2 separate regions of the Homo sapiens genome follow, and region 2 is linked to region 1. Evidence: fine-mapped expression QTL. A gene starts in region 1. The other region holds a variant in brackets. All regions are shown on one strand. Distances are from middle to middle. Region 1 holds the start of TXLNB (taxilin beta). Region 2 has its middle 38 kb from the start of CITED2.

Evidence for each region.
Region 2: its variant is fine-mapped to the expression of TXLNB in whole blood (INTERVAL, PIP above 0.99).

What each region holds. Positions count from the first base shown.
Region 1 is chr6:139,283,201-139,298,712 of GRCh38, forward strand. TXLNB (taxilin beta) reads right to left here and starts at 8,798. Exons shown (of 10, transcript NM_153235.4): 1 at 8,721-8,798; 2 at 5,276-5,713. The coding sequence starts at 5,699. It overlaps LOC102723690 (a long non-coding RNA gene), which reads left to right. Exons shown (of 5, transcript NR_197427.1): 3 at 2,682-2,720; 4 at 3,644-3,702. RefSeq lists enhancers at 7,513-7,572, 7,773-8,022 and a silencer at 7,632-7,926.
Region 2 is chr6:139,328,630-139,344,141 of GRCh38, forward strand. It overlaps the pseudogene LOC100129844. Among named protein-coding and RNA genes, the nearest start is that of CITED2, 38 kb to the right of the region's middle. The variant A/G (reference allele first, on the strand shown) is at 7,521.

The DNA.
Region 1 (15,512 bases):
CCTCAAAAGGAAAAAGAAGTCCTGGGAGCTTAGGTTGTAGAGACATTTCCCAAATATTCAAGGTGTTCTGTAAAAAAAAAAAAAAAAAAGCCTTGGCCAGGCGTGGTGGTTCATGCCTGTAATCCCAGCACTTTGGGAGACCGACGCAGGCGGATCACCTGAGGTCGGGAGTTCAAGACCAGCCTGACCAACATGGAGAAATCCTGTCTCTACTAAAAATACAAAATTAGCCGGGAGTGGTGGCACATGCCTGTAATCCCAGCTACTTGGGAGGCTGAGGCAGGAGAATCGATTGAACCCGGAGGGCGGAGGTTGTGGTGAGCCGAGATCGCACCATTGCACTCCAGCCTGGGCAATGAGAGCGAAACTCCGTCTCAAAAAAAAAAAAAAAAAATGTCTCTCATAGATCCAATCAGTCAATAAGTTTTGGAAATGATGGAAACTATGCCCATCACTATTTTAGATCTTCATTGTGTATACAGTAAAGGTCAGAGAATTCTGGCAGTAAAGAAACTGTTTAACTTTGTGAAATCTCAAGCATCCCAAAGTAGACACACTTTGGAAAATGTTGTAGTAGAGAGTCAAAACATTTTAGCATCTCAAATGTGCCAATAAAGCAAATAGCATCTAATAAATACAATGATTAAAGACATCTTTGATCAAGTACATAAGCAAAATCTAAGAATATATCTTCAGATATGGGTTGAATGACTTATTAAAATTCTCTAAGAGGTCCAAATAGGTTATAAAAGGAGACCACAGCCAGATGTTTATATTTTCTCCAAAAGAGCAGAGAAAACACTTTCTGAAGAATCAGAACCATTGCTTCCACAATCTGTGTCAAAATTACCCAGGGTGAACATCTCCCATGCTCGCCTAAAAATTTTCCTGTTCCTGCTCTTGCACTTACACTATATGACAATTAGCTTATGTGTCTTCTTCTTCCTCTCTACCTAGAGATCCTTGACTAAAGGCCATGACTTATTTATCTTTGCGCACCTAGCACAGTGCATCATAAAGACTAGGCATTAATAAATACTCATTGTGGGCCGGGTGCGGTGGCTCACGGCTGTAATCCCAGCACTTTGGGAGGCCGAGGCGGGTGGATCATGAGGTCAGGAGATCGAGACCATCCTGGCCAACACAATGAAACCCCGTCTCTACTAAAAATACAAAAATTAGCTGGGCATGGTGGCACATGCCTGTAATCCCAGCTACTCGAGAGGCTGAGGCAGGAGAATCGCTTGAACTAGGGAGCTGGAGGTTGTAGTGAGCCGAAATCGCGCCACTGCACTCCAGCCTGGCAACAGAGTGAGACTCTGTCTCAAAGAAAAAAAGTAAATAAATAAAAATAAATAAATAAGTACTCATTGAGGACGTGAGGATAGGTAGAAATTTCTAGGCAAAGAAACTAGAATGTGCACAGGCCTTGTGGGAGATGGCGTATAGCATGTTCAAAGAACTGAGAAACTAGATCATGCTTCACTCCAGGCCTACAAACTCCAAATATCTGTGTGTGGGGGCTCAGGAGGAGCATTTTTCACAAATTTTGCAATTGATTCTAATAAACAGTTAAGTTGGAAAACCATTAGTCTAGACGATAGCACAGTACCATTTAACTGAAAAGTAGCTAAGAAGGCTGCCAAAGCTACTTGCAAACAACTGAAAGTTTAAAATGGTGGTTACAAGTTGAGGTTAGCCTAAAAATGTTGTTTTCATGCATAATGTAGCTGTTAAATAGTACAGTGTTTAAAATAATATGCTAATGATGATGAGTGGGAAGGCACAGAAAGGTCATGAGCCCACACATACTCAATTAGAGTGGACACACCTAGGTACTCTAATCCACAAGCATTGATTTTGGTCAAACACAGTCAGTTGGAATTTGGTATCGTAAATAGCGGCAGAATTAGGGAGTTGGAATTTTTAAAAACATCATCCTGACTATTTGGTAATTGTAAGGTTAATGCAGATTATGAAATAACTCATGGAAGAGAGTAGAAACCCAAATTGGTTATTTTAACTTTATCCCTATTTTCTTCATATCTTTCCCCTCAACACACACACACACACACACACACACACACACACACACACACACACACCCCAATTCTTATGTAAAAGTTTTAGGGTGATTGAAAAATAACTTTTCTGGTTAGGAACACTTGAAGTTGCTTACCTCTGGAATGAGATTTTGTATATTGTCTTACGGAAACTTGAATAATGACTAACTTTGCAAAGGGACACATTTGAGATGTTTTGTCAGAGAAGAAAAAATTGCTCTGTAACACAGAGCAATTTTATTATGTTTTTCCATGTTCCAAAACACTAGAGTGATTCCAACCCTGCACTTTGGAACTTGAAGATACTTAAAAGTTATTATCTGAGTTCTTTTAATTTTATCCTAGTTGGGTGAAGTATGCTACCTGAATGTATTATTTAGGCCTTCTTGAAAGCATTGTAGCAATGGGTTTTAGCATCATAGCGATATCTGTAGGAAAATAGCCCCTTGCATGGCAAGAGTGATGCCATCGTAAAGCAAACCTGCCATGATGACCAATGTTTGACTCCTCCATACCAAGGTGTTCTGCAGCAGATATCTCCAACCCTCAGGCCACGGACTGGTACCAGTCATTGTGGGCTGCATAATGGGAAATCTGTTTTCATTTCTTTCATTTCAGATGCCAAGGGGAAAGTGACTTTACCCACGAGAGAGATTTTACCCACGAGAGGCCTCTATCAGTTTCGAAAATACCACCTAGCCTGTGTTTTCTTGTCAGATTTTGTTCCCTTTGGCTTACATTTTCTATTTCTTATCTTTCAGTGGCCTTGTCATATTTGTAGGGGAACTTTGGCCTCTCACTCAGTAGGAGAGTGGATCTGGAGTTCTTATTAGGTCAACAGTGATGATGTGTATACACTATTACCAATAACAAAAATAAAAATATTAGAAAAAACAGTAAAATATTCATCCATCCACTCCCTACCTTGGTCAGAAGAGAGTACTAATAATTTTCCTCAAGGTTTTTCTCTCCCCTTCCATCTGCTTCTGTAAACTCTCCTCCCTGTCAAGGTCTGGTCTAGGTTCTAGCTTCTCTATGAATCTACCTGTCAAGCTTTGTCTCTGCTTATTCCTCTTTCCCTTGAATTTCTCTGGTCTTCTTATCATCTCCTTCAGAAAATTTAGTCTCCTTCAGAAAATACCATCTCCTTCAGAAAATATCAAAGCTGCAGTTTATTACTCTCTCAGAGAAACTAGAAATCAAGCTAAAACAGATGAAACAGACTATCTGGGAGAGTGACCGGACCGTTCAAAGGAAGACTAGGGGCCGGGCGCAGTGGCTCACGTCTGCAATCCCAGCACTTTGGGAGGGTGAGGTACCAGTCCGTGGCCTGTTAGGAACTGGGCTGCACGGCAGGAGATGAGTGGCAGGCGACAGAGCAAAACTTCATCTGTATTTGCAGCTGCTCCCCATCACTCACATTACCACCTGAGCTCCACCTCCTGTCAGGTCAACGGTGGCATTAGATTCTCATAGGAGCGTGAACCCTATTGTGAACTGCACATGCAAGGGATGTAGGTTGCATGCTCCCTGTGAGAATCTAATGCCTGATGATCTGTCACTGTCTCCTGTCACCCCCAGATGGGACCGTCTAGTTACAGGAAAACAAGCTCAAGGCTCCCACTGATTCTACATTACGGTGAGTTGTATAATCATTTCATTATATCTTACAATGTAATAATAATAGAAATAAGGTGCACAATAAATGTAATGCACTTGAATCATCCCGAAACTATCCCTCCCCAGTCCATGGAAAAACTGTCTTCCCTGGTGCCAAAAAGGTTGACGGCTGTTCTGCAGCAAGGTCTTTAAACAATGCCTGTGACATAGACAATCCCTCAGAAAGATGCTTATCTAACGTTCCCAGTGGTCATGACTTTTGGCAAGAAAGTTGGAGATGTGACCAGCTGCACATGACTTTACCTAAAAGCTTGCTATGTAAAGGACACTTTCTGGAGAGTGGGTGTAGGAATTCACTGTCTCACTGCTGCCCAAGACAGCACTACTGTTTGTAAGCCCCTATTAAATATTTCTTTCTGAGAAAGTGGATTTGTCAGCCTCTGTTTTTGGCCTTCAGCTCCCTTGGCCTTTGTGGGTAGGTTTGTATATACCTGCTCACTGCAGAAAAATATTCTACTCCAGTTTGTGATATATTTGGGTTTACAGATAGTCTGGTTACTGGAGTTTGAACCCAGTTCTGACTCCAATGCTCATGATCTTTCACTCTACCACATAGTCTTCCAGAAACAAATCATATGTGGTCTCTGCCCTTGATAGATTCTCCATCTAGCATGAGAGATGGGTATATAAACAAATGATTGCTGCAGAAAATTTAATAGAAAACTAAGGAAGGTGATGCTAACTCTACCTGGGCATGTCAGGGAAAGTATCACATAGGAGGGAGTATTCGTAGTGAGTGTTTCCACCAGGAAAGACAAGCAGAGGGACTTTCCTATGTACAGTAACATGCTTCACTCATAGTTTTAAAAATTAACGTTCTCACCCTTTTTTCCCAGCCATCGTTGGTGTCACCAATCTCCCATGCTCTCCTAAAAAATTTTCCTTTTCCCGTTTTTGCACTTCTCCTATATAATTAATTTACATGTCTTCTGTTTTCTCTATACTTACAGCTCCTTGACCAAAAGACCATGATTTATTTATCTTTGTGCACCTAGCACAGTGCCTTACAAAGACTAGGCATTAATAAACACTCATTGGGCACCTGAAGATAGGTACAGATTTCTAGGTAAAGAAACTAGGATGTGCACAGGCCTTGTGGGCGATGGAGCATAGCATGTTCAAAGGCCTGAAAGACAAGATCAGAATGACTAGCTATTAGGCAGTAGTGGTGGTGGTGGTAATAGAGGCAGAGTGTTCAGGAAGGTGATGTTGTAGGGTAGAGTAATCTGAGATAAAACTGGGACTGGTTGGAGTTAGACCATTAGGATCTTAGAGAACATGTTAAAGATTTTGGTCTTCATCCTAAGAGCAGTAGGAGGCCACGGAACAAAGGGTCAATGGGTAACACACTGAAAAGTTCACCTGAGCTCCATTGAGGGGTAAGGGCTGGGGACAAATACAACAAGGGAAAATATAGAAGGCTACTACAGTCATCCAAATATTGGATGTGGCTTTTAGTGAAGTTTGGAAGAAGTGCCCCTTTTTTAGGAATACCATACAGAAAAGTCACATATTTGAACATAACTACTTGCCTAATCCTTTTAGGATTTTCTTTTCCAATTTTTGCTCCTTATTGCTGACGGGCTCTTTGACAGTGGGTGGCTCTCCAGAAGCAACGGGTTCTCTTCCAGCCTCTTCAGTTGTTTCCTCACAGTCCCCATCCTCGTTGTCAGGTGATTCTGCATTCTCAGGCTGCTCACTGGCCCTGGCAGAGCCCTCTTTCCCTGCTGTGCTGGCAGCAGACCCATAAGTGTTAATGATGTCTTCCAGCTGTCGATTCAGCTCTTCAGAGATATCGGGGTGCACACTTGCCTCTTTCTCTGGTGGTTGGACTGGGGTTGGAGAATCCTGGCCATCTTCCTTCTCCAGGCCATTGTGACTGGGTAATGATGAACTGTCACCTGGAGGTGTTGACTGTCGTTCCGCTGAGAGCTGTTCAGAGTGATTAGCCTCCATCTTGGGAGTAGTATCTAGTGGTAAGCACAGTTAGGCTTTATGTAGCTAACCTACTTGCTACATATCAATGCTACATTTCAATGGTAAGGATATCCCCCAAGTGAATACCAACTAATTATAGTCTCTAACGTAGAGAAAGGCAATGTCCTTTCACAAACCATTGATGTTACTAAGGGAGGAGACCACCCCTCATATCGTCTTATGCCCAATTTCTGCCTCCAAAGAAGAAGTAAAAACTAAAACGCAGACATGAAATCCACAGGCAGACAGCCTGGTGCCGCGCCCTGAGCCTGGTAGTTAAAAATTGACCCCTGACCTAATAGGTTATGTTATCTATAGATTACAGACATTGTATAGAAAAGCACTGTGAAAATCCCTATCCTGTTTTGTTTCGATCTAATTACCGGTGCATGCAGCCCCCAGTCACGTACCCCCTGCTTGCTCAATCAATCACAACCCTCTCACGTGCACGCACTTAGAGTTGTGAGCCCTTAAAAGGGACAAGAAATGCTCACTCAGGGAGCTCGGCTCTTGAGACAGGAGTCTTGCTGACGCTCCCGGCCGATTAAACTGCTTCCTTCTTTAACTGGGTGTCTGAAGGGTTTTGTCTGCGGCTTGTCCTGCTGCATTACAATTATTAAAGTAGGGACAGTGGAAAGTTGTTTTTCCAAATCAAGTCACACTGCTGGCATATTTTTGGTTTTGATCTTCAGTTTTCAGTAGCATTCCTTATTATTCACATTAAGAAAGTAATTCATGCTATTTTTCTTTGTGGCCATATTTGTCATTTTGCTTACACTAGTCAGTTTGTGTTACCATTTTCCTGTATAATTCTATGTAGATTAACAATCACTGGGGGTACATGACTGTATATATTTAAAATGTTTAAATATAAAGTGGTATTAGTTTTCTTTCAAAGTTAAAATATTTAATAGAAGAGCCATTGAATTTATTTAAATAACTCATAAGAATAACATCTCTAAGCTCTATTTGATCCATAAATCAATATTTTGCTTAGTGTGAATATTTTGATGTAAATGCATTATTACACTGGATAGAGGAGACATTTCTCACTTTTCTGGCATTTTCTTTTTCAGATAAGCAACACGAATGCTTTTTTTGAGGCTTAAACTGGCATCATTTTTAGATTAAGACAGGGAATGAGGGAAGGTATAAATAAATAGACAAAGTAGTATGGAAACACGGGCCAGGTGCTGTGGCTCATGTCTGTAATCCCAGCACTTTAGGAAGCCGAGGCGGGTGGATCCTTGAGGCCAGGAGACCAGCCTGGCCAACATGGTGAAACCCTGTCTCTACTAAAAATACAAAAATTAGCCAGGTGTGGTGGCGGGCACCGGTAGTCCCAGCTACTTGGGAGGCTGAGGTATGAGAATTGCTTGAACTTGGGAGGCGGAGGCTGTAGTGAGCCAAGATCGTGCCACTGCACTCCAGCCTGGGTGACAGAGCAAGACTTCGTCTCAAAAACTAAACAAAACAAAAGCATGATGATACTTATAACAACAATTCCTTAAATTTCTATAATACTCTTTTATTCCAATATATAAACCAATTTTTTAAAAGAGAAAAACAGATTACAACTTTCTCTTCTAAGTCAGGAAGCTCTAGAAAAACTTAATGATTTTTAAGAAGTAGCAATGTTTCATAAACAAGGAGGAGACCAACTCGAGAAATAATTCAGCAATAATAAGGGCCCTTAGGAAAGGGTGAGAGATGGTACTGAGTCAGAGATTCCAGGGTTTCTGACTATTACCACTTCTAGAGTTGCAATAGATTTGGTTTAGGCCTTTAAGTTATGGTGCATTTTATTTGTAAATAATATTTAACAGTGATGCTGCTAAATAGCAGCATAAAAATGTGGCAAGATCCTCATAATTCACAGGTTTTGCTGTTGTGGTAACATGAAAGTGAAAACAAAAGCATACTGTTCTACAACTGCACAGCTTCCTTTTCCTGTTCTCAGGGCAGTAGATGTCAATTGAATGCTCAGACACCAACAAGAACAGAAAATTCAACACACAGATGTTGCCACTGACTTGTGATGCTCACCAAACACTCATAACTTAGAGGAAGTACTTTTTTTCTTTCACTGGTTTGAATTCACCAACTTGATTATCAAATAATGCAGCAGTTTCATTATTTTCATCACTGGGATTTCTTTTCCTGACCTCACTTGTTGATTGCACTCATCTATATATAACTTAGGCCTCCCCTGAACACGGAGAAAGACACACGGCACCTGCTGTCCAGCCAGAAGTTATTTTAAGCTATTCTAAAATGAGTCATGCCGTTTAGCACTTCATCCTTGAAAATCAAGAGAATCGTTTTTCAGTCAAATTGAAAACAGTAAACATTTAGTGGCTTAAATCCATACATGGGTTTTAAAGTCGGGGAGACTATCTTAGGATGAAATAAAATCTCAAGTAAAATGAACTTCAAAATAATTAATTTAAGATAAGCTGTCCATAGGAGTTTTACTTCGGTTAGTCTAAATGCAAGTGGCTGTTTGTATTTGATTTATTCTTCATGAGATGCCACAATCATTGATTTTTTAAATTCTTAATTCCATGGCTATTCTTTAAACTCCTGTTCCACATTTACTTTAAAACAGAACAGTCATTATAAAGCCCAGGACAATTCAATTCCCAAAAGTAGCCTCAAGACAAGTTAACAAGAGGGAAAAAAACAAAGTCAGAGAACTTTGTTACTTTTCAATCATCCATTTTATATTATGTGGCAAAGAAATTATTTCTAACTTTTATCTTATATAAACTTTATTGCCTTATTTTCCCCTCCCCAGGGAGAGAACTTTTCACTTGTGTTGGCTATTCCAGATGACTATCACAGACACATCCCTCCCTAAGCAACACATTTTATTTATAAATACAACAATGAAAAGTTCTCCAACAGTTCACTGGCAATCTCAAAGTTGCAAGTTTCGAACACCACAAACCGCACCCTATACCTTCTCACAGGGCTTGGGGGAGTGTTTGTCATACTTACCAGAAGGCAAGAAGCTAAGCAAGAAGAGAGAGGAGAGGAAGGAGGCAGGAAAAAGCAAGTCAGAGCTGCAGCAACAGCAGGAGAGGGCGGGCTGGCTGTGTTCTTACAAGGGAGAGAGAAACCCAATACACACACACACACATACACACGTGCACGCACGCGCGCGCACACACACACACACACACACACGCCACAGGCACTGATGGAGGCAGCAGTCTGGAGGAGGTGGGGGTAGGGAAAGGAACATCATATGACACAGCAAGGGGAAAATACACCCAAGCTTCCCTAGCTGTTGCCAGGGGAAATACCTTAGCAGAGAGAAGCAGCTGGAAGATCTCATTAGACTCTCCATGTTTTGTTTGTCCTTTCGGAAATTTAAACTCTGAGTATATTACCCCCGTTGCAAATGCAGTCTTTCACCATTGTTGTCCTTTTTGGGTAGAGATCAGTTTTTCTTACTTCTTGGGTTATCTCCAGTGTGGTGGAAGATTCATCTTCTTTTTCTTCTTCTTCTTGCACTAGCTTAATTAGTGTCAGGTTTCTTACAGGAATCATGGAAAAAGAAAAACAATGGCATAAGAACAGGGAGGTGGTGGAACCATTTTAATTCTGATGTCATTGTTTGGTTTGTTTGCAAAGTTTGAAATAAACATGTAGATGGTGATTTTGGAGCTGAACTGAGTATAATCTTCATGCACGTGGTAATTGGTGTGACCTTGGAGCACAGTCTTTCCCAGGTAACTCTTCCCATCTCAAACAAACCCTCAGGGAAGCAGTCTGCTTTTTCTTCCTTAGTTGGTGGCTTTCCCACATTTTGTAAATCCTCAACATGCTCCTTGATCCTCCTCAGAAAAAGAAATTCCTTCTGATTCACCATAAAATGCCTGTCTATTAATTTACATCCATTTGCCTTTTATTTTTCTTTCTGGAGCTTGTGTTCCCATACTTCCAAAGCAGATTCCTCCATCGGTTTCTGCTCTGGGGACAGGCTAGGCATAGTGGCATCCCTTGTGGGAGGCAGAATAATGCCACCCAAAAGATCTCCACGTCCTACTCCCTGGAACCTGTGAATATGTTTCTTTACATGACAAAAGAGACTTTGCAGATGTGAGGAAGGATCCTGAGGTAGGGAGGTTATCTTGAACTACTGGGTGGGTTCAATGTAATCATAAGGGTATTTATTTATTTATTTATTGAGACAGAGTCTCGCTCTGTCACTCAGGCTGGAGTGCAGTGGTGCAATCTCAGCTCACTGCAACCTCCCGGGTTCAAGCGATTCTCCTCCCTCAGCCTCCCAAGTAGCTGGGATTACAGGCGCCTGCCACCACATCCAGCTAATTTTTGTATTTTTAGTAGAGACGGGGTTTCGCTGTGTTGGCTAGGCTGGTCTCGAACTCCTGACCTCATGATCCGCCCACCTCGGCCTCCCAAAGTGCTGGGATTATAAGCGTGAGCCATTGCACTCAGCCTCATAAGGGTCTTTATAAATGAGGGAGGAAGGCAGTAGGATTGGAGGCAGAAAAGGAGATTTGATGACCTCAGCATAGGTCAGGAAGCTTCTAGAAGCTGGGAAAGGCAAGGAAACAGATTATACTCTAGAGCCTCCAGAGGGATGCAATCCTGCGACATTGATCTTAGATCAAAGAAATTCGTTTTGGATTTCCGACCTCCAGAAATATAAAATAGCAAACTTATGTTATTTTTAAGCTGCTAAATTTGTGATAAGATGTTATGGCAACAAAAGGAAATGAAAACATCCCACCCCCAGTTTTGTCCTACTTATTCTCTGAGTTTAGGGGAGGCATAAGTTATATATAGATGAGTGCACCCAACAAGCAGAAGTCAGGATAAAGAAATTCCAGTGTTGAAGACAATGAAGCTGTTCACTATATTATTTGATAATTAAGTTAGTGAATTAAAATTGATGAAAGAGAAAAGCACTTTCTTCTAAATTAATGAATACTTGGTGAGTGCCACAAATTGGGTGGCATTCCATCCTGGATTGTAGCAAACTGACCCGATCACATCTCTTAGTAAATATAAACAAGTCAGTGCTTTTCAAATTTAAATAATGTATAGACTCACTTAACAGAATAATTTAAATAATGTGGAAATTATTTGAAGGATTATATTATTATTTGAACCTACATGTACTAAAATGAAAATAGGATAAATTCCTTATGCTTACAGTAGTTACATAAATTTTAAAATGTATACATTTTAAAGCCTACAAAATCAATAAATGCGACTCAAATTAATAACACTACTTTTATGTGACAGATATTGTTTTGCTGAACTTAAATTGCTGCTTGCAACATGAATACTCTATTGACTGCTGGGTTTTTTGAGTTTCTGGTACTCTTCTACAATGTGGTTTGGGAATTTCCTCAACACTTGATTCATTCAAATTATTACATAGTTTTTATTCATATGGCCTGCTATGATTTCATGGGGCTCTCATTTGATACGGCTGCATCATTTACTGCTTGCTATGGTCTGAATGTTTGTGTCCCCCCAAAATTCATGTGTTGAAATCATAAACCCCCAGGTGATGGTATGAGGAGGTGGGGCCTTTGGGAAGTGATTAGATTATGAGGGTAGAGCTTTTATGAATGGGATTAGTGTTCTCATAAAAAAGGTCTGAAAGAAACCCCTTACCCCTCTGCCATGTGAGGGTGCAGTGAGAAGAAGGCTTTGTACGAGGAAGTCACCAGACACAGAATTTGCCTGCACCTTGATCTTAGACTTTCCAGCCTACAGAACTATGAGAAATAAATTTCCATTGTTGGCCCGGCACGCTGGCTCACGGCTGTAATACCAGCACGTTGGGAGGCCAAGGCAGGTGGATCACTTGAGGTCAGGAGTTCAAGATCAGCCTGGCCATCATGGTGAAACTCCATCTCTACTAAAATACAGAAATTAGCTGGATGTGGTGGCGCATGCTTGTAATCCCAGCTACTGGGGAGGCTGGGGCAGGAGAATCATTTGAACCCAGGAGACAGAGGTTGCAGTGAGCCGAGATTGTGCCACTGCACTCCAGCCTGGGCGACAGAGCAAGACTCTGTCTCAAAAAAAAAAAAATTCCATTGTTTATTAGTCACTCAGTTTATGTTATTTTGTTATAGCAGCCTGAATAGATGAAAGCCCTATTCTTTCTCATTGTCCTGCAATTATTAAAGTAGTGCTAATTGGCCCTAACTTGAATAGATACACACATGATAGTGGAGGTATCAAAATGACACTTACACAGTGGCTACCCAGATCCAAAACAGGCATATGCATTTTCAAGTATAATTGAAAATAATACAAACATGCAAAACTGTGACTCCCAAGAATTTATCTGTGGCCTGATAGGGGCCCAAAAAACTGGGATAAGTTAATAAAGACAGCAAATTAATAGAGCTCAGTGTTTTATTGTCAAATCAACGTTAAAAGAACACAAATTACACGTCTAAGGCTTTGAACTTTTGTAAAGAATACACTTATTTTTTGAAAATACATCTAACTGTTTACGCAAATATCACAGGAAAATAATTTGAAAATTCAAATGATGCTAAAAAGCTTAACCCAAGAAACAATAACTCCTTGTTCTTCCACCTTCCTCCAACCTTGTGATGCTTTCTAGAGGTAATAACATAAAACTGTTGTAGATATTTTTTGGGGGGGGGATTTACTTTATCATTTTTAAATAAAATGCCTTGATTTTATTTACAACTCACCAATTTTTGACATTATTTATTGTCTTCTCATAATGATAGATGAAGATTTTCATTGTTTACACTCCCCTTTTTCTCCTCTCTTCATTTTCCCCACAAAATTATATCTCAATGTTTAATTCATATCCTATATTGTCTTTATTGAAATAATGTTTACTGTTAAACCAGGTAGAGCATTGTGATTATAGTTCTATTCATATGCAACTTTCTGTTTTTCCTGGAGTTGATAATTTCTTTTTCTTTTCATTTGCCTAGTATTGAGAATACTCTGTCTTCCCAAACAGCGTAAGAGGCCTATAAATCTTTCTATACAATATTCCCAAAGGTCAAATAATTTATGTATTCTAGTACTTTTTTGGAGATATGATCCCCACATACAAACACTCTTAGAACCTTGACCCCCCCCTCCTCCAGCCTGGGCTGGTGGCTTCTAGGCCTGCTACACAGCTGTGGTCCTGGCACTTCCCCTGCTGTCGTTCTGGGAATTCCCTTTACCTCTCTCCTGTTGCCTGGCTCCTATTCTTCCTCTTTCTTGGTTTAATTCCTCATTTAGAAAAACATATCCTCTAGTGGCTTCCTGAGAAAGCATTTATGGGAGACTGTGTGTGTGCCTGAAATATCTTTTTGATACCCTTATACTTACTTGATTGATAGTTTGGCTAGATGTAACCTTTTAGGTTGAAAATAATTTTTATTAAAAATCTTAAGACATATTATTTTCCCCTGTCTTTTAGTTTTTAATGTTTCTTAAAAATGCAAGGTCATTCTTATTCCTAATCCTTTGGATATGATCCATTTTTTTTCCTCTCTAGAACCATTTGGCATCTTTATCATGATGTTCTGAAGTTTCACAATGATTAAATTTGATGTAGATCTTTTTTTCATTTATTATTTTGGATGCTTACTTGGTTTTAATGTCTGTAGACTCAAATGTTTAACCTCTTCTCTTTTTCGTCATTGTTGCTCACCCTTGTCCTCCTCTGAGCCTCATATCGCTCAGTTCAGAGCCTTTCTGGTTAAGCTTCTTCAGAGAACAATCCTCAGGTATCCTGAAAGGGGCTTGATTTTGAAGGGTGGCATTTAGGACCCTTTGTTCTAACTGTTCCTTCTCCTAACTGGAAACAAACAAGCCAGGTGTGATGGTGCGCACCTGGTAGTCGCAGCTACTTGGAAGACAGGGGCGGGCGAGAGGATCATTTGAATGCAGGAATTCAAATCCAGCCTGAGCAACATAGTGAGACCCCATCTCTGAAAGCAAACAAACAAACAAACAAACAAAGCCAACAGCCAACAAACCATCCTACTATTTGTAGTCTCCTGCTTTACTGCCAATTTCAATAGTATCTCCACTTGCAGAGTATTAACCTCAAATTCCTTAGTCTTTCCAGTCTACCAGGGAAATCAGCTTGCCCCTCACTGCTTGCCTGTCCCACTTACATCCAACTCATCCCTGTGAAGCACACTTCCTGTTGAATCATTTACCACTATGTATTGTGTTCTAGTCCTCATCCGTTGTGGTTTGGGGTTTATGGATTCAATTCTTCTGGCTTCCCTAACATTAGAGCTTCCCTTTTTCTGCCTTTTTTCTTCTTCTTCTTTACTGGTGAATTTTATAGAAGAAAGAAGTCAGAATTCTCTTCTTTTCTGATTTTTACCATAAAGATGTGTTTAACCACTGTAGCAGTCCAGTAATGAAATGACCTATCCCTCCAAATAAAAAGCATCAGCATTGGAAATATCCAGTAGAGACTTGGTTGTTCTTTCTTTCAGGAATACTAGTAAAGAAATGTCTGGAAAGGGGGCAGGGGTAAACTAAATGATTCACTTAAGATCTTTTTCAAGTATAGAAGTTTATAAATTCTGTACTATTCTACCATGGGCTGAAAGGAAACAGAAATCATTAAATAATTAAGATTATGAGCCTTAAAATCAAGTAGCTTCCACGTGAATTCCAGATCTGTCTTTTACTTGGGCTATATTTTAATTTCTTTAGTTTCAATTTCCTACTCCATAGAATGGGGACTACTTATTGTATATGATTGTTATGAAATTAACATAGTAAATGTGGTTTAATACAAACACATAATCTTTTTAATTAATTCCAATAATTATGTGTTTAAATAAAGCCTGTGAATGGGAATTAATATTTTCTACACCAATAACATTTTCAAATTGTTGCTGCCTAGGACCAAGTTGAAGGAATCTATTGTATCATCTCTTGGTTGTGGTATTTATATTCTTGACCTAGGCTAGATCTGGCTTGGGGTGGTGGGGGCGCATCATTCTATACTGCTTCTACTCAGCAGACATCACCTTTGTCTTTCTAAAATGGAGGGAAATGTGGGCTTGTAATCAAACAGAGATTATTTTGTATTAATCCAAATACAAAACCAAACAGCAAGTTACAATATTCAATTCCCATGGTGACAACTCTTTAATTTGTACTAAAAGTGAAATATGATTCCCACCCTGTGAAAAGAATTGTTTTATCACTTGTCAGCAAAATTAGGCAAGCAAATATTATTTCTAGTAAAGAGCAGATGGACTTGCATAAATAAAATAAATAGTTTGAAATTTGTATAAATATTGGGTGCTACACTTGTACTTGCAAAGAGCCCCACCTCTTAAGTAGCCTTATTACTCTTACATTTTTATATTAACAATTTCATCATGAAAGTCTTCTTATAAATAATGCAGACAGATTCTAGGATAGGCTCCTTTATACCAATTCTCTGTTGAATTCAAATTAATATGACATTGCTGCATGCATTCTACAGGGGACATTTGGCTCATGTCAATATTTGCTTCAAGGAAGATCAGAATAAGGTGTGTTATTTTGCAGGAATATTGGACCTCCCCATCTTTGAAGAGCTCTTCCTTATCCCATTGCTGGATGTAGTAGAGATTCAGAAGCATAGAACTGCATGTTGACTTGTTCATGCAGAGTGTCCCCTGAGGGTAGAGTTGGATTTTAGTGGCTACTATGGGCTGCAGCAATGACATTCCCCTAAAGCAGACTCCACTGTTGCAACCCCTGCATGCCAGCAAGAGGATGTGAAGGTCAAGTGATTGGTCC
Region 2 (15,512 bases), 45 kb after region 1:
GAAACCCTGTCTCTACTAAAAATATAAAAATTAGCTGGGAATGGTGGTGCGTGCCTGTAATCCCAGCAACTCAGGAGGCTGAGGCGGGAGAATCGCTTGAACCAGGGATTCAGAGGTTGTGGTGAGCTGAGATCACGCTACTGCATGCCAGTCTGGTGACAGAGCAAGACCCTATCTCAAAAAAAAAAAAAAAAAAAAAGGAAAAAAAAAAGAAAAATACAAGAAATTAGCCAGGTGTGGTGGTGGTCACCTGTATTCCCAGCTACTTGGGAGGCTGAGGCAGAATTGCTTGAATGGGGGAGGCGGAGGTTGCAGTGAGCCAAGATCACTCCACTACACTCTAGCCTGGGCAACAGAGCCAGACTCTGTCTCAAAAAAAAAAAATCTGATGTTGAATCATTAGTGTAATTTATATGTAAATATGATTTAGATTTAACATAAATTTAGCAATATAGCTATATATTTTAATTTCCTCGTAGACAAGACCAAAAAGGAAACAGAATGGGTTCTAGAGGTCCCGTTAAATATTATAAAAGAAACATACAAACAACAAACAAAACCCCTCAGTATTCCAAACATTGTGTGCCAGGTAGGAATTCTGTTCCAGGAGGAATTCCTTGTAGGGATTCATACAGAGCAGAGAAGGAGTTGATAGCGCAGTAAGCAGTACCTTTAAATTTTGTTTTATGGAAGATATTAGGTTGGTGCAAAAAGGTCTACAAGGATAAGGAAAATGTGGCACATATGCACCATGGAATACTATGCAGCCATAAAAAAGAATGAAATCATATCCTTTCCGAGGACATGGATGAAGCTGGAAGCCATCATTCTCAGTACACTAACACAGGAACAGAAAACCAAACACCGCATGTTCTCACTCATAAATGGGAGTTGATAAATGAGAACACATGGGCACAGAAAGGGAAAAACACACACCAGAGCCTGTTGGGGGTTTGGGGGTGAGGGGAGGGAGAGCATTAGGACAAATACCTAATGCATGCAGGGCTTAAAACCTAGATGACAGGTTGATAGGTGTAGCAAACCACTATGGCACGTGTATACCTATGTAACAAACCTGCACATTCTGCACATGCTTAAAGTAAGGTAAAATTTTTAAAAAGGTCTATGAATGGCCATTTCCTGCATTAACCTTTGATGGATTCTGAGAGGATAATATTAAACTTCCACGAAGGCATTTCAGGGAAGAGTTAAGATAATAAGTACATGTTGCTTTCTGGTGAACTAAGCTAAAAGAAAGGCAAAGTTTATTAAGAAAAGGGACAAGTAGAGGTCAACATGTCCTTATCAAACATCATGTATAGTAATAGAACTAAAATAAAGCAGAAAAAGTTATTTCCCCTATGCCTCCTACTCAAGTTTCCAAATTGAGTTTCTGGGTTAAGTAGGGTATTACTCAAATCTAATTTTGGTTATAATTACATTCTGAGAATTATTTGCAAAATATACCAATACCTACACCATAAACTGACCTGTTAAGTGGAGTTTTTAATTTATTGTCTCTGTAGATTTGAAATATGTCTCAAAGTATTTTAGTATAGCTTATCCTAAGGTGAATCTTCAGACCATAAGTAGATAATGAGTGCAGCTGCTTTCCAACTGCCCTCATAGATTTTAATACAAGTATGTCAAAAAATGAAAGATAACTCTTACATCCTGTAATGGACTTTTCATAGAAGAAGGTAGTTTTTCTGGCTTCCTATCATCCGTGCATCATTATGGTAACAGGAATTTGTGGAACCAATCTCTACGTTGCATTCTCTGATTGGTTCAGACATTGTCCAGCCACCCAATCTGAGTCAAGCAGGTATGCTGACATTCGCTGATTTCTGGGAAAAGGTCTGCTTCCCAGCTGAACAAGAAGCCTCATGGAATGGAATGCCTAGTGCAGCTGCCCTATTTTGCTTCCATGAAGAGCCAAAGACAGAGAGCGGCACAGGGGAAGTCTGAGTAAAAAGACAGCTTGATGACAGCTTTTGAGCCCTCGATCCAGCCATGTTTGGAGAAATATCATTTTTGTTTAGGCCAATTTAGGTTCATTTTTCTGTTACATGCAACCAATATATATCTAACTAAATATCTAACTAAAACATCTTCCTATTCAGAAGGAAGAATACTTATGTTTAACTAAGATCTGAATAATATCTTTTACACATGCACATATACACATATAAGTTGAAAAGACTAAAATATACTCAAGTTCTAAAACATTTAAAATTAAAACTCTGTCTGTCACAATGTCACTCATTCATTCTCATTCTGCCAGAATGTTAGATACTGGCTGGAAAAAAAAAAATTCAAAAGCTGGTTTCTATACCAAGATCCCACACATGGGAAAAAACACAGGAAAAATGTGTGAATACCAACATGATTATGACATTAATTTGACTACTTCGTGAGACTGAAAGGAAAAATAAAACAGTGTCCAGTGGTCAGATGGTTGTGTTTTGTGTTTTTTTCCCCCTTGTAAAAGATTGAGAAATCCAGACCTGAAGTCTGAAATCTGTCCTACACTTTCAAAGGAGGAGAGAGCCAATGTATGCATTTGTAACTTAGAGGAACAACAGAGTTATTTTTTGTGGATAAGATTGATTCTACACAGAGTTCAATTTGAAGAAACTATGCCTAAGACATTAAAGAGAGCAAACAGTTGATCGGGATTGAGATTTGCTACTCAGGATAGTTTCTAAAGAACTGCAGGCAGAAGATTCTCTCTTGAGTCTCCATTCCTTTTCAGGTGACTGAGTAGATACCATCATCCAGCTATAAATGTTTGTTCAAATAAATTATTGCGTGGGAAGAGTCCTTGGAGCTATACAATAAGGAGAGATTGTTGTAAGCCTGCAAAGTTGAGTAAAATAGCTCAGCTGGTCAGAATTGGAATTTGTACTTTCATGGTGCTCTTGTAAAAGCCATAGCATAGGCAACCGTGTCCCCAAATCTATGCTCATTATTGATCCTATTCTCTATATCCAAGACCTTTCATTCTAGCTCTTTTTAAGGAAAATGTAGATTAAATATTTGAATTTAATACATTTCAATTTAACTATAAAATTGATAGTTATGTATATAACTTATAAATTGCACACTTAGGTACCTCTCTGTAACTTTAAGCTGTTTTGTTTTCTCTCAGATTAATGAAAGTTCCTGTTGAAAACTTGTCTTCAGGCCAGGCTGGGTGGCTCACGCCTGTAATCCCAGAACTTTGGTAGGCCGAGGAGGGTGGATCACCTGAGGCCAGGAGTTCGAGACCAGCCTGACCAAAATGATGAAACCCCGTCTCTATTAAAAATACAAAGTTAGCTGGACCTGGTGGATCATGCCTGTAATGTCAGCTACTTGGGTGGCTGAGGCAGGAGAATCACTTGAACCCAGGAGGCGGAGGTTGCAGTGAGCTGAGATCGCACCACTGCACTCCAGCCTGGGCGAGAGAGCGAGACTCTGTCTCAAAAAAAAAAAAAAAAAATGGAAATCAGGATTTTTTTTTTTTTTTTGAGACAGAGTCTCACTCTCTCTCCCACACTGGAGTGCAGTGGCGCCATCTCGGCTCACTGCAACCTCCGCCTCCTGGGTTCAAGCGATTCTCCTGCCTCAGCCTCCTGAGTAGCTGGGACCACAGGTATGTGCCACCACTCCTGGCTAATTTTTTGTATTTTTAGTAGAGATGAGGTTTCGCCATGTTAGCCAGGGTGGTCTCCATCTCCTGACATCATGATCTGCCCACCTCAGCCTCCCAAAGTGCTGGGATTACAGGTGTGAGCCACCGTGCCCAGCCAAAAACTTGTCTTTAATAATAATTTAATTAAGATATAAAATGTTACTTCTCAAATAGTGGAGAAGCTTAAATGCCAATTAGGATTTTTTAAATATTGCAGCCATTTAAAAATTGAACTGTGACTTAATATTTGATGCTCTTTTGGATGAAATGAAATCATCCAGGAAGAGAGCTAGTTTTAGATACTGCTGGATTCTGTGCTTAGAGAATACCACTAGGGTCCGTTTCTACGCGCTGCACTGTGGTCCATAATGCTATTCAAATTTACGTTATTCTACTTTCAAGTTCTGCAGAGGGGGAATTGCCTCCTGCAGCTTCTTCATAACTCTAGGGGTTCCCACACTCTCTCTCTCTGGCTCAGACTGGGTCAATGTGCTCATCCCATCCTTTAAACAATCATAGTGACTGCGGCCTGGGTGGGTGGAGGTGAGCTCTTTCGCGTAGGCTCCACCTCATAGTAAAGAGGAGTCACCTTTTCCTAAGCACATGAACTGGGGATGCGGTTGTTCATCCAAAGCAAAATTGGGGTATTGTTACCAACATGAGGAAGAGTGGATATCCTGGGCATAAAGAACAAATGTCCACCCTAAGGTAGAACTCAGATGTTCCAGCAGCAGAGCTGGTCAGAATTTGAGGTCAACGATCTCTAGACCTCTTCATGAAATTCTTTTTTCTGATATAGAACTTTAGAAAAGAAGGGTATAAATATCAGTTGAGATATGAAATATTGTCATATCATTGCTATGGACTAAATTGCATTATCTCTCCCGTTACTCCCAATTCATATGTTGAAGCTCTAACTCCCAATATGATGGAATTTATTGGTGAGGATTTGGAGGTAATTAAGATTAGACGAGGTCATGAGAGCGCGATTAGTGGCTTTTTTTTTTTTTGACGGAGTCTCATTCTGTCATCCAGGCTGGAGTGCAGTAGCACGATCTCAGCTCACTGCAACCTCCACCTCCCGGGTTCAAGCGATTCTCCTGCCTCAGTCTCCCGAGTAGCTGGGACTATAGGCGCCTGCCGCCACGCCCTCCTAATTTTTTGTATTTTTAGTAGAGATGGGGTTTCACTGTGTTAGCCAGGATGGTCTCGATCTGCTGACCTCATGATCCGCCCGCTTTGGCCTCCCAAAGTGCTGGGATTATAGGCGTGAGCCACCATGCCCGGCCCTAATGGCTTTTTAAGAAGTGGAAGAGTAAGAACTTTGACTCTCTGTCATGTGAGGACCCAGGGAGAAGGCAGTTGACTACAAGCCAGGCAGTAGACCCTCACCAGACACTGAATCTATTGGCACCTTGATCTTGGATTTCCCAACCTCCAAAACTGTGTAAAGTAAATGTCTCTGATTTAAGTCATCCAATCTCTAGTTTATTATAGTACCACAAGCAGACTAATACAATTGTGTTCAGGAAATGAATAATTCAAAGAACTTGTCTTCATAGCCCAGATATGCTTTTGGTATATAAAGAGTTATTCTAGTAAAGGTCGTCAAGTGTTTCTATTGGAAGAACATTCAAATGTAAAATGTTTGGCCAGGTGTGGTGGCTCACACCTGTAATCCCAGCACTTTGGGAGGCCGAGGCTGGTGAATCACCTGAGGTCAGGAGTTCAAGACCAGACTGGCCAACATGGTGAAACCCCGTCTCTACTAAAAATAAAAAATTAGCTAATGTGGTGGCATGCGCCTATAGCCCCAGCTACTCAGGAGGCTGAGGAAGGAGAATTACTTGAACCCGGGAGGCTGAGGTTGCGGTGAGCCGAGATCACGCCACTGCACTCCAGCCTGGGCGACAGAGTGAGACTCCATCTCAAAAAAAAAAAAAGAAAATATTGTTTTTCAGTGTTCAATATATTTTCTCACATACCTGTCTAGCAGTGGTGTCATGCAACTCAATCTGTATCTTACGGACAACCACAAAGCATCTTGATTTGGAAATATATACACCACATATTTGTGTTGACAATATTATCCAATCATTTGGAAACATAATTTATGAGGAAACTAGAGGTCCTGCATTTCAGCCATTTTGTCAACGAAGTCTCTACCTCAAGTAGTTCACTAATGAGGAGAGAGATTTATTTCTCAGTATCAAGTTTATGACATGAACGTCTGTTTTACAGCAATATTTACCTGTTCTTTTTTTCATCTTTAATTCTTGGACTTCATATAAAAAGGACAAAGTAAATCACATAGTCAAATTGGCTGATTCCGCATAAGCTCAGAGAGAAGAGTTCTATTTCAGAAAAATAATTTAATTCTAAATCTGTGTCTGAAGAAATATCATCTGTAAACTTTAGCTGGAAAGTGTTCTAAGAATATAGAGATATTCCCCATGGTCTTGATTGTGTTCATCCTGAAAGATTCAATTTAATAAGAGAAAGGTTTGGGTCTTTTGAAAACAGTAAGAAAATCATTTATCAGAGTTTCTATTTTCTCTGGGCAATTTTCACCATTTCAGCATACCCAAGAGAGAAATGACGTATAATTTTGTTATGCTGAAGAATTTGGCAAGCCAGCTAATGGTCTTACTAAAAGTGAAGAAATCCCTTTGGTGACAGATGCAGGAAGTTATGTCTGAATCATTTGGAACCATTGTAGAGAAGCCTTTGTTCCAAAAGAGATGTGTGGGGATTTTCTTGGGAAGAAAAGGTGTCTGAATATTCTTAAACCTCGAACAGATTTATCAAACTTGCTGCTTCATTTAATCCTTTGCCAAATGGGCTCATCTTCCATCCAACAGACTTCTCCCTAGCCATCTTCATCTTTCAAAAAGTCACCCTTAAAACGCATCTTGTGTTTCTTTCACTGCTGTGATGATGAAATCTGTCTCAAAAGAAGCATGTCGGTGTTGACTTCATAATCTTAGAGGCTGTAACATACAGGGAAGGCTGTTACTTAGAAACATACTCTCAGAAAGGTTTTTTGGAAGTTTTTAGGGAGGGGGCGAAGAAGAACTAGGGACAGGTAGATGGTGAATAGAATAACCTGAAGCCATGAGTCAAGGTCAACAGCAACAATAAGTCAAAGCAAGATCACTGAACATTGGTGAAAATAAAAAGAAGTGGAATCAGACTACAGAGGAAAATGAGTAAATTTAGTATCCAGAACTACTCTTAATGGGAAGTCCTATTAGCTTGTCTCCCATCAGAGTTAGGTGAAGTAATAATCTCCAAAAGGTGGGGCTGTTACCTCTGCAGGCGTTTAGAACTGGTCTGAACAAATCACCTGCAAGCTTTTTTGTGGTGGAAGAATGCTGTAGAACGGAGCTGTGAAAGCAAGTATAATTTCTTTTCTGACTCCCTCTGACTTTCACTTAATCATGTACAGGCAGTTCAAAAATCCTGCTGCCTCTTTCTTGCCAATTTCAATACAAATTCTCTCTGGCCAGAAAACTGATCATTTGGTATATAACCTTTTTTTTTTTTTTTTGGTTGGTTCCTCAGTTTCTCCACAACATCACCTGACATTCTGCTACATAAATAGCTATAATTTTAAATAAAATGAGTCAAACGCTAGTGTCAGGCCTTTACAAAGGCTCTCTCACCCTTTAAGATCGCTATAATCCCTCTTTTACATAAAAGGCAATAATGTTCAGACTCTAAGCTAGTGAGTTGAAACGCAAACTCTGAACCATCTCATCAGAAAAAAAAAAGAGCATAGGTTTAGAGTCAAATGAACTCCTGTGTGAATTCTGGCTTAGCATGCCTATTTCTGTCCCAATCT[A/G]TTCTATAATCTCCTTTATCCTTGTAGTGGAATTATTTTAAATTCTATCTTGAGACCCTTGTCTGGGAGCTTATATGATTCATTCCATCATTGCCCAAATGAGATAGACCAGGAGGCTGGATCCTCCTCTTAGTAGGGGTGGATGCTTTTTTAGTGGCTGTAAATGGATCAGTCCATGACTTAATTGTGCATGAAATAGAGATTTTTAAAAATTTTCTATAACCAAATTTAATTTCTGTCATAAATGCTAAATTTCTACCTGGTAATGACAAATTTAATTCTTCTAATTCAGGATAAACCTAGCCAAATTAGGATTTTTAAGACATTGTTTCAGGGTAAAATCATTCAATTTAGGCTTCTTCCCCCAAATTTCAATTAGCCCAAGTGGCATCTAACTTTAGGGAGGTGTTACGAATTAGGTAACCCCAAGTTATTTGCATTTCTTCTTTTCCTGAGAGTGGAAGTAGCAAGGTATAAAGTGTTATAATAATGGCTAGTAATTTGCAAAGAGGTAAGATGATCTTACAGGAGTAAACCAGCTTGCTGGAAATGAGTATTTTCAGTTAAGGGCCAAAATTGTGTAGCACGAGCTCCCAGAAAGCCCCTGGAATTGTGCCAGCAGACACGGCCATGAATTTGGCAGTGGCTGCTGTAGCCGTGAGGCAAGGTAGGCCTTTGCCACAGGATCAAAAGACAGACTGTAATAAGCTATGGATTTTTGGTGCTTTCCTTGTAATTAAAGCTATTAGAGAATCAGAATTTTATTTAGAAGCTTCTTTATTCCAATCAAAAAAGATAGTACATTCAACATTAGGACTTTACTGTCCTAATGAAGAGAAACTTCATTTGCTCTAAGAACACTGTAAGATGGACAATTTTGGAAACATATGGAATTCTCCCAAAGTGGCCAAATCATCATCGGTGAACTAGTGCCAGTTTGTGAGATGTGTGCAAGCATTTGGATAATAATAAAGAAGCAAGTGTCTGGACTGGCAGAAGTGCACACTTGAACTGAGATTACCCCTGGAGAAATGATCATGGTCAGTTGAATGTGTTGGTTCTGCATTTTGTGTCTTGAGCCACTAACCAGTGGCTGGCCACCCTTGACAAGAGACTTGATAATTTGTGGCCCTCAGCAGATAGAATTTTTGGATATTCTGTCTTTCATATTAACTGTCAGTTGTAAACACAGAACAGAGGAAAAATGGACCTTGTACGTTTTTTTGTTGGTGACTTGAAGTAAATTTCATTTACTGGGGAACATAAGCTTGACAAAATTTTTATTAACAGCTTTATTGAGGCCAAATTGACATACAATAAAATGCACATAATTAAACTATAAACCTTGAAAAGCTTTGACATTTGTATACACCCAGCATAATAATCAAGATAATGAAAATATGCATCATAAGTTTCCTCATGTCCGTTGGTAATACCCCCTTCTTCTCCCTGCTCCCCATACCTCTGAGTCCCCAAGCAACCACTGATCTGTTTTCTAACACTGTAGATTAGTTGGTGTTCTAGAATTTTACATACATGGAATATAGTGTGCATTCTGAGAAAAAATATATTTTTTTTCGCTCAGCATAATTTTGAGATTCTTCCATGTTTTGTGTGAGTCAATAGTTCACTTTTTGCATTGATTTGTATTCTGTTATATGGGCATACCAAAAATTGTTTATCCACTCACCTGAACATAAACATTGAAGCCTTCTTTCCCTAGGTTTCTGCTGTTATAAATAAAGCTGCTATAAATATTCATCTACAAGTTTGTGTGTATAGATACATACTTTGTTTTCCTTTAAGTAAATATCTAGGAGTGAAATTGCTGCGTCATATGGCAGGGATATAATTTCCTTTTTAAGAAACTGTCAGTTGCCCCATCGTGCAATGTGGTGCGGCAACCAAGCCAGGGCTGCTCCATGAAGAGGAAGCAAAGACGGCTTGCCAGGACAGTGATGGAGAAGAACAAAAAGGCAGGATCGCCTCAATAAAAGGAGGGTGGCTTTGCCAGTTTGTAATTTAAAATACTGAAGCACAGTCTTTGAAGCAACAAGGAAATGCACACTATGCCAAGGAAGATTACAACGAAGCTTATAACTATTAAACAAAAGCCACAGATATGTGCCCTAAAAATGCTAGCTATCATAGTAATAGAGCAGCTACATTGATGATACTTGGAAGGTTCTGCGAAGCCCATGGAGATACTTTCACAGTGAAATTGGATGATGGTTTCTTCTGGGGACATCTACGAGAGGGCAAGTGCCACCTCTCTCCAGGGAATGCCATGGCAGCACATTGCAGTTTTCAGAGAGCCCTAGAACTGGATCATAACAATGCTCACTCACAACAGGAGTTCACAAATGCTAATGCAGTCAAGGAATAGGAGAAAGTCATAGAAACAAGTTTTGAGAAGTGGGCTTTTCAGAAGGTTGTTTTCTGCATGGACTATGCCCTAGAATTTGCCCCTGTCTGCCATCACTTCAATATCCCTCAAAGCAGAATGTTTAGCAATGCTGGGTCGTTATCCAGAAGCACAGTCTGTGGCCAGTGACATTTTATGAACGGATTCCACCAATGTGGATGCTCTGTATGTACGCGGACCTTGCCTTTATTATGAAGATTGTACTGAGTAGGCAGTTGTTCAGTTTTTTGTACAGGCTCTCAGAGTGGTTCCTGACCATGAGAAGGCCTGCCTTGCGTGCAGAAATGCCAGAGCACTTAACGCAAAGAAAGAAGACTGGAATAAAGCGTTTAGGGAAGGAAATTACAAACTAGCTGATGAACTGTACGCAGAACCCCCGGGGTAGACCCCGACAACATAAAAGCAATTGCTAAACTCTACTGTAACCGGGATATGGTTAATTCCGAGCTTGGGAAACTAGATGATGCAATAGACAGCTGCACAAATGCAGTGAAGCTCATGACACTTACATAAAAGCCTACTTGAGAAGAGCTCAGTGTTTCTTGGACACAGAACAGTATGAAGAAACAGTGCGAGGCTATGAAAAAAGTATATCAGATGGAGAAAACAAAAGAATACAAACAGCTCCTAAAAAATGCACAGCTGGAACTGAAGAAGAGTAAGAGGGATAATTACTACAAGGTTCTGGAAGTGACAAGAATGCCTCTGAGGACAAGATCAAGAAAGCTTATTGGAAACAGGCCTTGAAGTACCATCCACATCGTCATGATGGAGCCAGCGCTGGGGTTCAAAAGGAGGAGGAGAAGATCAAGGAAGTGGCGAGGTCTTTATCATCCTCTTTGATTCCAAGAAAACGATTCATTATCACAGTGGGCAGGACCTGGATAAGGAAGACATAAATTTGGGTGATTTTGATGCAAACAATATCTTCAAGGTATTCTTCCGCGGTCCTACGGGCTTCAGCTGTGAAGCATCTGGTCCAAGGATTTTCTTTCTTCGATTGGGCTCATGAAAGGCAACCATCCAGAATCCAGAAAATGCAGAGTCGCTCAGTTTAAATGTAATCAGCAGATCATTTCTATTAAGAGAGGAATATTTAAATCTCAAACCATAATTTGTCTGCCTCTCCTGTAGATCTATCAGTTTTTTGCTCAATGTATTTTATTATTAGGTGCATAAATGTTTAGATTTGTTTATGACCTTTTATCATTATGAAATAAACTTGAAAAATCCCATGTAATATTGTTGGCTGTGAAATCTATCATGTCTGGTAGTAATATAGTCACTACAACTTTCTTATAGTTAAGGTTAGCTAGATTATCTTTTTCTGTCTTTTAACATCTAACGTGTGTGTGTGTGTGTGTGTGTGTGTGTGTGTGTGTGTGTAAATGAATAACACCAAAAACAGTTACTTTGAGAAAATCAGTGAAATTGGTCAATCTCTGGCTAGACTGATCAAGAAGAAAGAAAATATATATGGAGAGAGAGTACATTTCTTATATGCAGCATATAGTTTGGTCTTCTGTTTTTTTCTTTTCTTTTCTTTTCTTTTTTTTTTTGAGACGAAGTTTCACTCTTGTTGTCCAGGCTGGAGTGCAATGGCGCGATCTCAGCTCACCACAACCTCCACCTCCTGGGTTCAAGTAATTCTCCTGCCTCAGCCTCCCAAGTAGCTGGGATTACAGGCATGTGCCACCATGCCCAGCTAATTTTGTATTTTCAGTAGAGACGGGGTTTGGTCAGGCCGGCCTCGAACTCCTGACCTCAGGTGATCCGCCAGCCTGGACCTCCCAAAGTGCTGGGATTACAGGCGTGAGCTGCCGCACCCGGCCCTGTGTTTCTTTTCTGTTTGACAATCTCTGACTTTTAATTGAGATGTTTTGACAAAGTTATATTTAATGTGATAATTGATAGATTCAAGTCTGTCATCTTGCCATTTGTTTTCTGTTTGACCCATCTCTTCTTTTTCTTCCCTTTTCCTCATGTCTTTGGTTGAAGAACTTCCTTTGATATTTCTTTTTTTTTTTTTTTTTTTTTTTTTTTTTTTTTTTTGTGGTGAGATGGAGTCTCACTCTGTTGCCAGGCTGGAGTGCAGTGGCGTGATCTCAGCTAACTGCAATCTCCGACTCCCGTGTTCAAGCGATTCTCCTGCCTAAGCCTCCTGAGTAGCTGGGATTACAGGTGCGCACCACCAAGCCCAGCTAATTTTTGTGTTTTTAGTAGAGATGGGGTTTCACTATGTTGGCCAGGATAGTCTTGATTGCCTGACCTTGTGATCCACCCACCTTGGCCTCCCAAAGCACTGGGATTACGGGCATGAGCCACTACGCCCAGCCTGACATTTCTTATAGAGCAAGTCTGTTGCTGATAAATATTTTCAGCTTTTGTATATGTGAAAGAGTCTTTATTTCACCTTAGTTCTTGAAACATATTTTGCTTGGTATAAAATTCTAGTTTGACAGTTTAATAATTTTTTTGTCAGTACATTAAAGATGTTGTGTGTCACTGTCTTCTCACTTGCATTTTTTCTTATACGAGATCTGCTATAGTTCTTATCTTTGTTTCCCTAAATATATTGTGATGTTTTTCTCTGCTTTACAATGTTCTATCACTTGTTTAGGAAAATTTAATTATGATGTGCCTTAGTGTCGTTTTCTTCACATTTCTTGTGCTTTGGGTTCATTGGGCTTCTTGAATATGTAGATTTATGCTTTTCATTAAATTTGGAAAATTATTGGCCATTATTTCTTCCCATTTTTTTCTGTTACCCTCTCTCTTCTTTTTCAGTGACTTCTATTACATGTATATTAGGCATCTTGAAGTTTTCCACAGCACAGTGATACATGGTTTTTTAAATGTTTATTCTTTCTCTGTTTAATTTTAGATAATTTCTATTGCTATGTCTTCATATACACATATACACTAATCTTTTCTTCTGCAATTTCTAATCTATTTCTTAAACTCCTTATATATATATATATTTTTTTTCTTTGAGACGGAGTCTCGCTGTGTCGCCCAGGCTGGAGTGCAGTGGTGTGATCTCAGCTCACTACAAGCTCTGCCTCCTGGGTTCATGCCATTCTTCTGCCTCAGCCTCCCGAGTAGCTGGGACTACAGGTGCCCACCACCACACTCGGCTAATTTTTTGTATTTTTAGTGGAGACAAGGTTTCACCATGTTAGCCAGGATGGTCTAGATCTCCTGACCTCATGATCCACCTGCCTTGGCCTCCCAAAGTGCTGGGATTACAGGCTTAAGCCACCACACCTGACCCCTTAAATATATTTTTAGGCTGGGCGTGGTGGCTCACACCTGTAATCCCACCACTTTGGCAGGTTGAGGCAGGAGGATTGCCCAGGAGTTTGAGACCAGCCTGGGCAACAAAGTGAGACCCATCTCTACAATTTTTTTTTTTTTTTTTGAGACAGAGTCTTGTTCTGTTGCCCAGGCTGGAGTGCAATGGCACAATCTCGGCTCACTGCCACCTCTGCCTCCCTGGTTCAAGTGATTCTTCTGCCTCAGCCTCCTGCATAGCTGGTATTACAGGCGCTTGCCACCATGCCTGGCTAATTTTGTATTTTTGGTAGAGACAGGGTTTCACAATGTTGGCCAAGTTGGTCTTGAACTCCTGCCCTCAGTTGATCCACACACCTCAGCCTCCCAAAGTGCTGGGATTACAGGCATGAGCCACTGTGCCTGTAATTTTTTTTAATTAGCTGGGCATGGTGACATGTGACTGTGGTACCAGCTACATGGGAGGTTGAGGTGGGATGATTGTTTGAGCTTGGGAGGTTGAGGTTGCAGTGAGCCATGATTGTGCCACTATACTCCAGCCTGGGTGACAGAGTGAGATCTTGTCTCAAAAATATATATATTGTATATATAGTGGTAAAAGAATCTACATAAAATTTGCCATTTTATCCATTTTTATGTGTGCAGTACAATGGTGTTAAGTATAATCACATTATTGTGAAACATCTAATTTGCTTCTAATTTCATCCAATGAATTTTTCATCTCATTTCTAAAATTTTCATCACTAGAATTTGATTTAGGTCTCCTCTATATCTTTCATGTCTTTACTTAACTTTTGATCATTTGAAAAACAGTTACAATAAGTGTTTTAATGTCCTTGTCTGCTAATTCTAACATCTAGGTGGTTTTCAATTGACTGACTTTTCTCTTCATTAAGGGTGGTGTTTTGCTTCCTTCATGACTGGTGATCTTTTATTTTCTTTCTTTAAATTGTGTTTTATTAGATTTGAGATCCTGATGTATGGTAATCCTTGATTGAATGCTGGGCATTATAGATTTTTTCCTTGTTTGGTGCTGGATAGTTTCATATTCCTAAAAAGACTCTTGGTCTCTTCTTGGATGGTAGATTGGAGACATTGTCAGCATGCTTCTCCTCCTTGGAAAGACACAATAGTGTGTAGTGTTTCACACTGTGAATTTTTCTCCAAGAAGCAACACAGGAACTAAACAGGAAAACTGAAAGAAACCACAGGCCCTTTGAAAGAAGTGGTGGGCTGCAGCCTACACCATGAGTCAGGTGAAAAACTAAGTCTGCAGAATCTGAAGGGGGATAAACTGCCTCCAGGAAATACACTCCCACTGGGGAACCAGTTAATCCAGTCCATGGGGGAAGGCCTTAACCCTACTGAGTGCTGGCATTGATTTAGGGATTGATGTGGCATATAAAAGCAGGGGCAGCAGTGGGAAGAGCCTTGTGTGCATTCCCAGTCTTCAGCACAGACTAAGGGAAGTGATTTTTGGTCCTACCTCACAAGGGACTTCCCAGAAGTCTGCCAACTAACTCAAGTGGTGGTTGCACGTTGAGAGAAGCTCCTAGCTGAAATTCATGATATAATTTCAAGTGGGGACAGACTCCCTTGGCCAGAACTGGGGGCAAGTGGGAAGTGTGCTATAGCCACAAGTACAGGAGCTGGGACTGGGAGGAGCATGTCCTGAAAGCAGCTGTTGCTGTCTCCACAGGGAAGGCTTATGGGCTGGGGCAGTTTTGAGTTTTAAGTGCAGATTGCCTGGAACTTAGCTAGCTGATGCTAGTGTAACACTGCAAGTATGAGAGACCTGCCTTTCTTTTTTCTTTTCTTTTTTCTTTTTTTTTTTTTTGAGACGGGGTCTCACTCTTTCTCCCAGGATGGAGTGCAGTGGAGTGATCTTGGCTTACTATAACCTCCGCCTCCTGGGATCAAGCAATTCTCCTGCTTTAGCCTCCCAGGTACCTGGGATTACAGGCATGTGCCATCATGCCCGGCTAAGTTTTGTATTTTTTGTAGAGATGGGGTTTCACCATGTTGGCCAGGATGGTCTCAATCTCCTGACCTCGTGATCTGCCTGCCTCGGCCTCCCAAAGTGTTGAGATTACAGGCATGAGCACCGCGCCTGGCCTGCGACCTGCCACCTGCCTTTCTAAGCGTGTGGGAGCTGGGTAGGCTTACTGTTGCCTGCTATTCCCCACTCCCTGTGAAACTCTTCTGTGCAACACAGGCAGCTGCACTGCTTCCTGGAATATTACCGGAGCAGCCGGAGAACTGGCCCCCAGCTC